2 separate regions of the Homo sapiens genome follow, and region 2 is linked to region 1. Evidence: fine-mapped expression QTL. A gene starts in region 1. The other region holds a variant in brackets. All regions are shown on one strand. Distances are from middle to middle.

What was found. PIP is the estimated chance that this variant, and not a neighbour inherited with it, causes the effect.
Region 2: its variant is fine-mapped to the expression of PKDCC in whole blood (TOPMed, PIP above 0.99).

Annotation. Positions count from the first base shown.
Region 1 is chr2:42,045,233-42,050,595 of GRCh38, forward strand. It overlaps PKDCC (protein kinase domain containing, cytoplasmic), which reads left to right and starts at 2,789. Exons shown (of 7, transcript NM_138370.3): 1 at 2,789-3,606. The coding sequence starts at 2,968. RefSeq lists enhancers at 1,166-1,669, 1,670-2,174, 1,798-1,917, 3,418-3,677, 4,391-4,892 and silencers at 2,088-2,377, 2,488-2,737, 2,888-3,067, 3,078-3,177, 3,308-3,377.
Region 2 is chr2:41,876,834-41,882,196 of GRCh38, forward strand. LINC01913 (long intergenic non-protein coding RNA 1913) reads left to right here and starts at 722. Exons shown (of 3, transcript NR_033996.1): 1 at 722-945. The variant A/G (reference allele first, on the strand shown) is at 2,510.

The DNA of each region.
Region 1 (5,363 bases):
TGAGGCCCAGGCTATGGGCTCCACCTGGTCTTTGAGTGGGTGGGCAGACTGCAGATCAGGGGCCTGCAGCAGCATTTCATGTATTTCAATTCTTTGAAATGATTCCTCTCCCTGGGTGGCAGAAAGGAAAAAAAAAAAAAAAAGCAAACAAGCAAAATATAGTTAAGAACTCAAGAACTGCCAATTCAGAAACTCTAATCTGCTCAAAAAGTTCAATCCCTTTCTTTCAGAAGCCAAAAACCCATTTCCATCTCAGATTGTATATGTCTGTGTCTGAGAGCTGGTGAGGGAGACAGTGAGTATGCGAGGGAGGCCACTGAGATGCCTTTGTTCCTGTGTGTGAGCTACTGCTCTGAACTGCTCCGTGGACCTGTGTGTGTTGCACGCACATTTGTGCCTGTTTCTCAGGCCCCTGTGTGCCTTGAACTTTCAAACCATAACAGAAACACTGAAGCTTGGCAAAGATATCACAGGAATAATTATCTAATTTCAGAACATGTTATTATAATACCTACATGATGTGTAACAAACTTAACAATGTTCATGTTATATTCACCTACTCTGAGCTGTAGACTCACAACGCCAAGTTTTACCCTCAGAAGTTTCTCCAAAACACAAGGGCAGAGCAAGCCCCAAAGAAAGTTCTTCAGGGAATATTCCCCCACAACAGCTCCCTCACGGATTGAGACGTTTGGCTGGGTAGATGTCTATGGGGAAATTGCTGGAAGGAGGACAGAGCCTATCTTGGGATGGCAACTGTTCCTCCCAAAATCCTCATTCCTCCCCAGAAAAGAAGACATGGAACTGATAAGGAACTAGCAGCCATATTGGGGTGACACAGGCAGACAGGCTTTTCCTGATTCAGCTGTGGGCCGGGGGGGGCCTCCTAATCCACCCAGCTCCCCGTTTTCCCCAGGGGTCTGAATTGGACCAAGGCTGAGTGTGAGGGGAATGGTTTGCTGTTTGCTGCTGTTCCCTGTTGACTTTAGCCAGTAGCTCTGTTTACAAACCCAGGTTGGTTTTCCCAGCACAGTTAATTAGACCAAAGACATCTGGTGCAAGGCTGCGGAGAGGGCATCTGCTCAGAGCCTTCCCCCTACACCCTGCAGACTGCAGCCACGGCCCAGAGTGGGGCAGAACAGCTCTATCGGTACAGACCTGACTCCACCAGACCCAGTGTTCTCGGAGGAATCATGGCTTCCTTCACCCTGCCTTTCCATGCTTGCCAAGTCGGACTGGGCCCCAACTCCCCAAGCCATAGAGAACAAGGAGTCCGGGCTGGAAGGCCCACCTCAGTGGGATCATAGGCTGGAGATCAGGGACTCAGCTCTCTCCTCGGTCCTTCCATGTCCAAAGGAACAGGGCAGAAATTCCTGTCCCTTTCTCATCACAGACACTGCATTCTGTAGGAACGCCAGACCTCTTCAGGGAAAATCTCCCCTCCCTGGATACCCCCCCACCCACCCCCACCCCCAGAAAAAAGGCTGTGGACCCTTCTCCTCCCTGACCCCTCCCCAGCCAATCCCTGACACTGTGAGGAGGACAGAGATTAACCTGGCCCAGAGGGAGGCAGGAAGCTGCCCAGGAAGGTGAGAGGATCTAGGTGGGCAGTTTCAGAGTGGCGGGGAAGAGGAGAGCTGCGAGGGGGAGGGGCAGCGGCTTATCTCTCCCAGGAGGGGGGAGCTCACTCCAAACAGCTAGTGCACTGGCGTGTGAAAGCCCCTCAATTAGCACTAATGATGCAATCAGGGAGGGAGGAGGAGGGACCGAAGTTCTGGTGGCGTCAGCACCAACTTACACACAAGGTACACATTCCCTTCATCGGACACAATGGCCCCTTCAGACACGCCGAGGCACACACTCCACAGACAGCCGTCCGTGGGCACAAACGCACTCTTTGCCCAAGCTACTAGCATGCACATGGTTTCTTATACGCGGCTGACCCCGTCAGACCCCAGGCATCTTGAGGGGTAGGGAGCGACCCCCAGCTGCATTTGGGGCTTTAGAGGCAAGGAAAATCAGAAACACTTTGGTAAAAGGAGTTGAACAGGGCATCCTCGGCGAGCTCACGAGCATTCCTCTATGCCTAGAGCTCCTGTCCCACGCGCGCTCGCAGGTGCTGGCCCGGCTGTGCCCGCTTCCCCCTCACCATCGCCCCAATCCGGAATCCGGGGCTGAGCGAGGAGCCGCCACCCCCGGCCCCACCCGCGAGAGACGGGGTCCACGCGCCTTCCCTGCGCCCAAACCGCCCCGAGGCCCCCAGTCCCAGGAGGGAGCGCTGAGATCACTCGGATCTCCGCACCCCGGACTTAGCTGCTCGTCCCCTCCGGAGCCCGCTACCCGCCGGCCTCGCCCCTTTATCTTTCCCCCACTCCGCCCGGCCGGCTCCGTTATCCACCTCCCAATCCCGTTATCCGGCCGCCCCGGCCCCGTTATCCGCCCTCGCGTTGGGCGCGGAGCCCCCGCGCGCCTCCTGGCCGCCGCCGCCCCCTCCCCCGCTCCCAGACGGAGCTCGGGGGACCGCGGGCTGGGCGGGACCGCGGGCTGGGCAGGACCGGAGCCGCCTCCGCGCCGCTTCCCAGGCCCGGACGGCCGCGGGAGGAGGTCCCGCTGTCAGTCAGCGGGGAAGGCCGGGCCGGGCGGCCGGAGGGGGCGGCGCCGAGGACGGGCTCGGGCCGGGAGCTGGGAGGTGGAGGCGGAGGGGCGGGGGAGGGGGCGGGGGAGGGGGCGGGGGCGGGGGCGGGGGGCGGCTCTGGGCCTTATAAGCGGCGGGGGCAGGGCGGCAGGGAGGCAAGTGTCAGGCCGATGTGTCGCCCGCGAGGGGCCGGGGTCGGGGCCGCCGGGGCCATGCGCGCGGGCTGGGCAGGGGGCCGGCGGGGCGCAGAGCGGAGCCGCCTCGGAGCCTGAGCCGCCCGGGGCCGGGGCCGGGGAGCCGCGCGGGGCCGGCCGGCCGGGGGGAGGGGAGCGATGCGGCGCCGGCGGGCGGCAGTGGCCGCGGGTTTCTGCGCCTCCTTCCTGCTGGGCTCCGTCCTCAACGTGCTCTTCGCTCCGGGCTCGGAGCCTCCGAGGCCAGGCCAGTCCCCTGAGCCTTCGCCGGCCCCGGGTCCGGGCCGTCGCGGGGGCCGCGGGGAGCTGGCCCGGCAGATCCGGGCGCGCTACGAGGAGGTGCAGCGCTATTCCCGCGGGGGCCCCGGGCCCGGGGCGGGCCGGCCGGAGCGGCGGCGCCTGATGGACCTGGCTCCGGGCGGGCCCGGCCTGCCGCGCCCCCGGCCCCCTTGGGCCCGGCCCCTGTCCGACGGCGCCCCAGGCTGGCCCCCGGCTCCCGGCCCAGGCTCCCCCGGCCCGGGCCCGCGCCTGGGCTGCGCCGCGCTTCGCAACGTGTCCGGCGCGCAGTACATGGGCTCAGGCTACACCAAGGCCGTGTACCGGGTCCGCCTGCCCGGCGGTGCCGCGGTGGCGCTCAAGGCGGTGGACTTTAGCGGCCACGATCTGGGCAGCTGCGTGCGCGAGTTCGGGGTACGGAGGGGCTGCTATCGGCTGGCGGCCCACAAGCTGCTTAAGGAGATGGTGCTGCTGGAGCGGCTGCGGCACCCCAACGTGCTGCAGGTACGAGGGTGGGGACGCGGGGGTAACGGTGTTGGCTGGGAGTGCCCAAGACCTTGTCAACCTGGCTGGAAGAGAACCCCTTGATCTGGAGTGCCAGTGACTGCACCCAGGCTAAGCTAGACGCAGAAACCGGACCATGGCCCTTCCCACTGCACCACCCTGCTTCTCACTCCTGGGTGGGCGTCCCTTTACCGGAGAACTCCTGGGTTTCTCGGCTTCCACACATCTCTTAAAGACAGGCCAGGACAGAGGCTCCCAAAACTCAGGGGGTGGGGCAGTCCATTAGGATTTAGGACTCTACTCCGGGCTGGAGTTAGGAGGTTGAACACCAGGGATATTACCCCAAGCCAAAATGACCCTAAGCCAAGACACTTGAGTCAGAATTCCAACTGTGTGATAAAGTCCCCCTTCTTGATGGAACTTCTCCCAACTTCCAGTGATTTGTCTGGTTTTGAAAATGAGACGGGACAGCAGTGGGGCTGGGAAGAGCTGGAAAGAGACCATGTGTCAGGCTTGATTCCTATAGAGTCTCCCCACCCACCCACCTCCAGCGCCACCCAGAAGACACTGGAAGGGGGCTGGGGAGCAGGCTAGAAAAAGGGAACACAGTCCTTCCCAGAAGTGAACTAAGGGTTCCCCAGGCCTTAAAGTGGGTCCTTGAGCCCCTGGAGAAGCCTGAAGGTCTCAGCTCAGTGGACAGACTGGCGGCCTGAGGATCTAAATGTCACACTGTCTGAGTGTATATAGATAGCCAAGAGGCTGGAAGGTTGAGAAGGCCAAATGCTCAGGTTCCTACTCAACGGGACTCTGCCTCGCCTGTTCACTGGAGACACAGGCGAGAGCTGAAACCCCCACCTTGTCCCCTCCAAGCTAGACTTTGAGTGGGCCTCTCACAGTCCCAGCACCGCCCTAACACTCCACGTCCTCTCTCTCAGGTCTCCCCCCATCCTAAGATTAGACAGACTATTCCCTTTGCACATGTCTGAGCAAACAGAGGGGAATCCCTGACCGCTGTTGGCCCGGTGAACATGGGTGTGTGCAGCCTCCCCAACGGATGAAATCTTGCACACACCTTCCACCTACCAGCCCACTCAAACTAACCTTTCTGCACCCAGCAGAAATGACTGGAAACCCAGGAGTCCCTCTCTCCTTTCCTTAGGAGTGAGATGGCACCCCAGCCCTGGAGGGAGATGGGTGGGCGTCGTAGAGCAGGAGAGACTGGCCCAAAAGTTGTTTATACTCCTGTTGGCTCCCAGTCTCCCCCTCCCCCATCGTATTCCCCAACCCTGGTCAGACACTTGTGACCGGGCCCTGGGCCCCAAACTGGTCTCAGGAGCTCGGGCAGAACCAACACTTGCGTGTAGTGAAGCCTGGCTGCACAGCTCACACCGTGTCTGCAGCTTCAGGGAGTGAGCCCCTGGTTACGTGGCCATTCTAACTGGGAGGATCTTGTACTCTTTCCTTCCCAGGGACTTTTGGGAACTTTTTGGAAACTCTAGGGTGTCAGCCAGATCCTGAGGGAGTGGAGAGGTCTTGAGTGACTTAGCAGGACATAAAGTCTTAGTTACTTGACTCAAGACCCCTCTCCCTTCAGACGGGTTTGATGTTTGATGTGCTTTCCTATCTTTTAAGAAACTTGTCCCTCACTCTTCCCGCCAGCTCAAACTTCCTGACAAGCATTCAGCTAACGCCCCACATATATATCACGTGACGGTCCTCCTCTGAAATGTCAGGCCCCCAGCCCAATTCTGAAGGCA
Region 2 (5,363 bases), 170 kb before region 1:
GAACATAGAACCAAGAAAGTACCTTAGAAGTCATCTGATCCAGTCACCCCTGTTTTACCAATGAGGAATCTAGACCCAGAAGAAGTTAAAGGACTTACCCAAGAGTACCCAACAACTCTCTCACCACCCCAGGCTCCCATCTTTGTGTCTCTCCTGTGTGAGCTGTTCCCTGAAGTTCTTCCTGAACTTGCACATTGCCTTTCCCTTTGATTTTAAATCCTTGGCTCAAATGACATGCCCGGACTATATCGTGTGATATGAGCTTGAAAAGTAATTTACGTACAAGTCTTGAAAGCAAATCAAGTTTTAAAACAAAGTAGCATCTACTCTGCCCCAGCCTTGACATCTTATTACATAGCAAATGCTGGCTTTTTAATTTCCCTAATCAAGACTGGTCCTATTTAGCCCACCTCCTCAAGGGGTCCCAGCACTAGCCCCACTCCGACGCCTGATGAAGTTCCAGAACAGGTGAGAAAAATGAGAGGGCCCTGCCCAGGGCTCTGGGAGTCGGCCCTCACTGCCTGCCCTTCAGACAGCAAGACAGAAAAGGCATTCATTTTCTTCCTCCACGTCATGATACCAACCGAAATTACCTTTAAATGAGGAAGAAGGTCATTATTTAATCAATAGGATTGCGTCAATTGAGGAAAATTTGTCTCCAGTGTAAACAAGCGGAACGTCTTTGCGCTCTATAAAAACAAGGTTAAATTACTTGCAGATCCGGGCAACGTGGAGAGATGTAGGAAGTGAACCTGAAGCCTGACACACTCAAGGTCTCGGAACCGAAAATAATAGGAATTGTTCTTATTTTTCCAGTGGAATCAAGCACAGAGATGGGCACGCCTCTTTACAGAACCAAAGATTCAGAACTGTGCCTTACCCTTTGCTTATGAGGCGGAGGAGGAGGAAGAGAAAGAACCACCGCAAAGAGAGATGGCAACAAAGGTAAAATGAAGGCCGGGCAGCCGATCCCACTCAGGCTGACCACAGTGAGGGAGCAGCATTAAAATGAGAAAGGATCAGGTCTCGAAGCCCAGCCCTTCCCGCTGAATCTCGTCCTTTGCTTCATCCATTCCATTAAATAAGTCATATTGAAAATAAATTATTATTAATACAACAGTAGCTAACATTATGGGGTCTCACTCCATGCCAAGCATGCCAAACCCAGGTCATGCACGGTGCTACTCGATGTTCACAGCAGCTCTAGAGGTGGGTGCCAGTCATGCCCACTTAGCAGATGCAGAGGAGGGCAGTCGCAGCTGGAGAACGGCGGGCAGTTCTGCCTGTTTCTGAGGCCCCACTGCTTGAACTGCCAGCCTCAGAGCCATCTGCTCACTGGGTGCTCAGCCCCGTGCTGCACGCTGTGGACTCACAGGGGGAAGTACAAGCTAGGCCTGCCCCTAGGGCATCCCCATATCCCTGGCAAGAAGGGGATTTGGGGCATTTACTCCTGTTTAGGGAGAGGCTCAGCTCGTCTGGGAATCCCTGGATGAGCAGACTCTGTGCCTGCTCCTCTCCCGTACCCCTTCCCCATCCATGTCAAGGGCTTTGGCCACAGCACATAATGGGTCCAGCGAGTCACAGTCTCTCCCGGAGGCGGCCCCAAAGACCCCTTACCCACACCTCCTCGATCGCTGCTAGGGTATGAGCTGGAGGCTGTCGGTGGTGAATGGGATCTCTGTCACTCCACAGGCATCTGATGAGGTCTAAATTCCCTGCTCCCTGACAGAACTTCTTGGTGGGGTTATGGCTTCCAGGTTCTCCTCACCTACTCAGGAGACTGGGCTAACACTGAGTGAGGTTCGCTGACACCCTCTGTTCATTAACAACAGGACCAAAACCAAATAAATTTTAGCTCTGGGCTTTTGGACAGCCAGATTCCAACACTTTGGTGGTGGATCCTGACTAATGTTCCTTCCCCATCCCTCCTCCTCCCATCCCCCAACCCACCCCGCCCAGCTCCAATTCTGAAGTGTCTGAATGCGGAGTTCATAAGCTACCTTCCTTCCATGACCATGTTGCCCACACGGCCTCTGCTGAGGATCCGGGCAACACAGTCACCACGGGAGGAGGCCCTCAGTTACCCTAGCAGCGATCTGAGGAGTGTGGGCCAAGGGCTTTGGGGCCTCCTCCGGGAAAACTGTGGCAGCCCAGCCAAGACAGCAAGAGTGTGGCCTGGCCAAAAAAAAAAAAGGAAGCTTTAAAAAAAATTTTTTTAAGTGAAATGAAACATATTTGACCTGGGAAGAAATAAAAGACCTTTCAAGTTGTCAAAGTGACAAATTAGACAAAGAGGCCGAGCAAATGTGAGCTCCTGGGGAGTCCGTCAGAAGGAGCCCAGATGGAATGGACGAGGCTGGGGGTGACCAGAGGGATGCAGACAGAGGATTTATCCAGGTCGGGGTGGGAGACCAGTCAGAAGGCTGCACAAAGCTACACACAGTCTACCCTTTGTACTAGTATTTATCTAACTTGTCAATTTTATAGCCACGTTACCTTCCGAGTGTTC[A/G]GGAAGGCAGATATTGGTGCTGTCAAGAGGCCTGGCTGTGGTTTGCACAGCATAATGACAGATGCAAAAAACAAAGGGGAGGGGAGAGGGGCCTTCAGAAACCACAAAAGAGCCTTTGTAATTATGCCTCTGCCTCCCTCGGGAGCGTGCCTTTCCCTCGCTGCAGAGGTGCTCGCTCCAGGGGTGCTCTCTCCCCCTATATGCAGCTGTGCCGGGCAGCTGCACCGGGCAGCTGCCTAGCACACGTCTACCAGTCACCCTGCATGGACTTGAAGGGAGCTGTTACATGACTACCTCTCTTCCCCAGGCTAAATAGCTGCAGTCCTTTAACCTCTCTTCATGGGCCTGATTTTCCATCCCTTTAATCATCCCTGTCACTTTCTGCTGCAGCCTGTACTCACCACAGCCCTCCCCGAGAGTGGAGACACAGCCAACAAGGATCATGGGCCCAAGGGCCTCCAAGAGCTGCTCCTTTCAGACCACCCCCACCATGGGCCCACCCTGCAGCCACAGGTCCTGGGAAGCCCATGGTCATGGAGCCCCCACAGCTGAGTTACTGTGGCTCATGACCCAATTGGAGCTCTTCCCTCCCTGCTCTTGGATATTCCCCATGACCAGAAAGTCATTAAAATCCCACAGTCTCCTCTGAGCTGATTCTCACCATTTTTCTCTTCCTCTTCATTCTCAGTGCCTCACTCTTACACACTAGACCCCTGGACTATCATTTGGACCATGGAGCCAGCCCCCCAGCCAGCTTCCCTGCCACCAACTTCCCCTCCAAGACACTTAAAGGCCAGCTTTGGAAATATTTTTTTAAATTGAATGTCATTTTTATCAAGTCCTTCCCCTACTCAAGAGCCTTTAGTAGTTCCCTATTTCTTCTTGTTATAGCAGACATAAATAACTCACCAGATTTTGAGAATACTCTCACCACTCCCCCAACCCCTCTTCTGCCTATGTCCAGATCTACACTCAAAAACAGCCTTCCCTAGTTAATCTCCTCCCCTCTCTGTCCACCCCTTTACCCATCCCCATGGTTTATTGGATACTGTTTTGGGTGTCTTGAGATATTAGGTTAGGGTTCTTTGACAGCAAGCAACAGAAACCAACTCTGACTAGTTTAAGGAACAGAAAGGGATAGATTGGAAACGAATGGCATAGTTTGGAGATTAAAAGCAAGCCTGAACTACAGTCCTGGGAAAGATAGAACTGGGCAGCTCTGAAGATCTTTCTGGAACATTGCCATCAGATGATCAGCTCCAACTGCCTTCTCTCCTTATTTCTCTCTGCTTAAGATTCAGAGTTGCAGGACTGAACATCAACAAGCTCCGTGATCAGGGAGCAGAGTCCTGTGATTGGTTGCCCTACCAAAACCACTCAGGGTGGGGGAAGGTTGCAACATTTAGCAAATAAAAATACAGGATGCCCAGCTAAGTTGAATTCCAGATAAACAATGTTTAATTGCCCATATAAACACATCCCAGGCAGTAGTTCCTGATTTGTCTTCTCATTCTTCCCTTCCCTCAGTCCCACTCTGTTGCTCCCAGGTGGGTCAGCACACCCTCAGACCTGTACCTCTACCCACTCTGACTGTACCTCACTGTTAATGAATCTGTTCAGTCCTTTCAAGGTGGCTGTGAATTTTATTTCTTCCTCTTTAATTTTAATAACCGAGCTTCCATTGACTGGAAACTACACATTAACTGACACAAATAAAAGGGTGCACATGCCCTTTGGCAACCTTTATTGTTTATTTTCTCTTTAGCCTCATTGGAGAAAAAAATCAACTTTCTCCGTCTTCTCTCTTTTGCCAAATATTACAAAACAGACCTAATAACACTTTGCATTTGCATAACTCTTTAGATCTTAATGTACATTTTCACACTCATTTCATTCAGTGTCTTCACTCCTCAGTGAGTGAAGTGGTTAGTGGGCACAGGTAACATAGTCCCCCATTTTACAGATGAGAAATTCAGACGTTGAAAGGTGGGTTACAAAAGCTAGTATGCATCCAAAGTTGTGGATCCAGGACTCGGAACAATGTGTCCTTGCCTCTTTTCTGTAAAGGGCCAGATAGTAAATATTTCAGGCTTTGTATGCCAGATGGTCTCTGTTGCAACTCCTCAACTCTGCCATTGCAACACAAAAGCAGCCATACGTAATACATAAATGAGTAGATGGATGTTCCAATAAACTGCATTTGTAGAAACAGGCCAGTGGGCCATATCTGGCCCACAGGCTATACTTTGCAAACTAACCCCTGCTTTACACCACACAACAAACACTTTCCAATCTTTTTAAGTCTATCATGGTTTGCCTCCAATTGGGATGCCATAATTTTGACCTCAATCAATTTTAGATGACTAATTTTTTCTCTCCTCTTTACTTCTTATGCATCCGGATTGCTGCGACAATGACCAACTTGGCTTCCCACACCCACTTGGTTCTTCCTACACTGTGGCAAAGTTTCCTCTCATACGTGTGAATGTGCTCAGCTAAGCCCATTCTTCCTCCGCTGGGTCCTTCTTTACCCGCATATGAGATCAGTACCGACAGACCTTGTGGGGAGGCAACTTTCTAGGATGGGTCATCTTCTGAGGCCCCCAGGATTAACCAGCATACCCAGAATTAACCATTAAACAGGATTAACCATCATCCTTCTCTCTTTCCTTTACTCTGGGCTCCACACGTTTCCTCTCTTGGGCCTTTTCCATGGCAAGTTTGTCCCAGGGAAACTCATGCCTGGAATGGTAGCTCTACGACCTGGTCTTTCTGTGGCGTTTTCCTGTTGCCCACGGAAGTTGGGGACTGGGTTCAGTTTCTTCTTGAGCCTACAGAGTGAAAAGACTGGCTC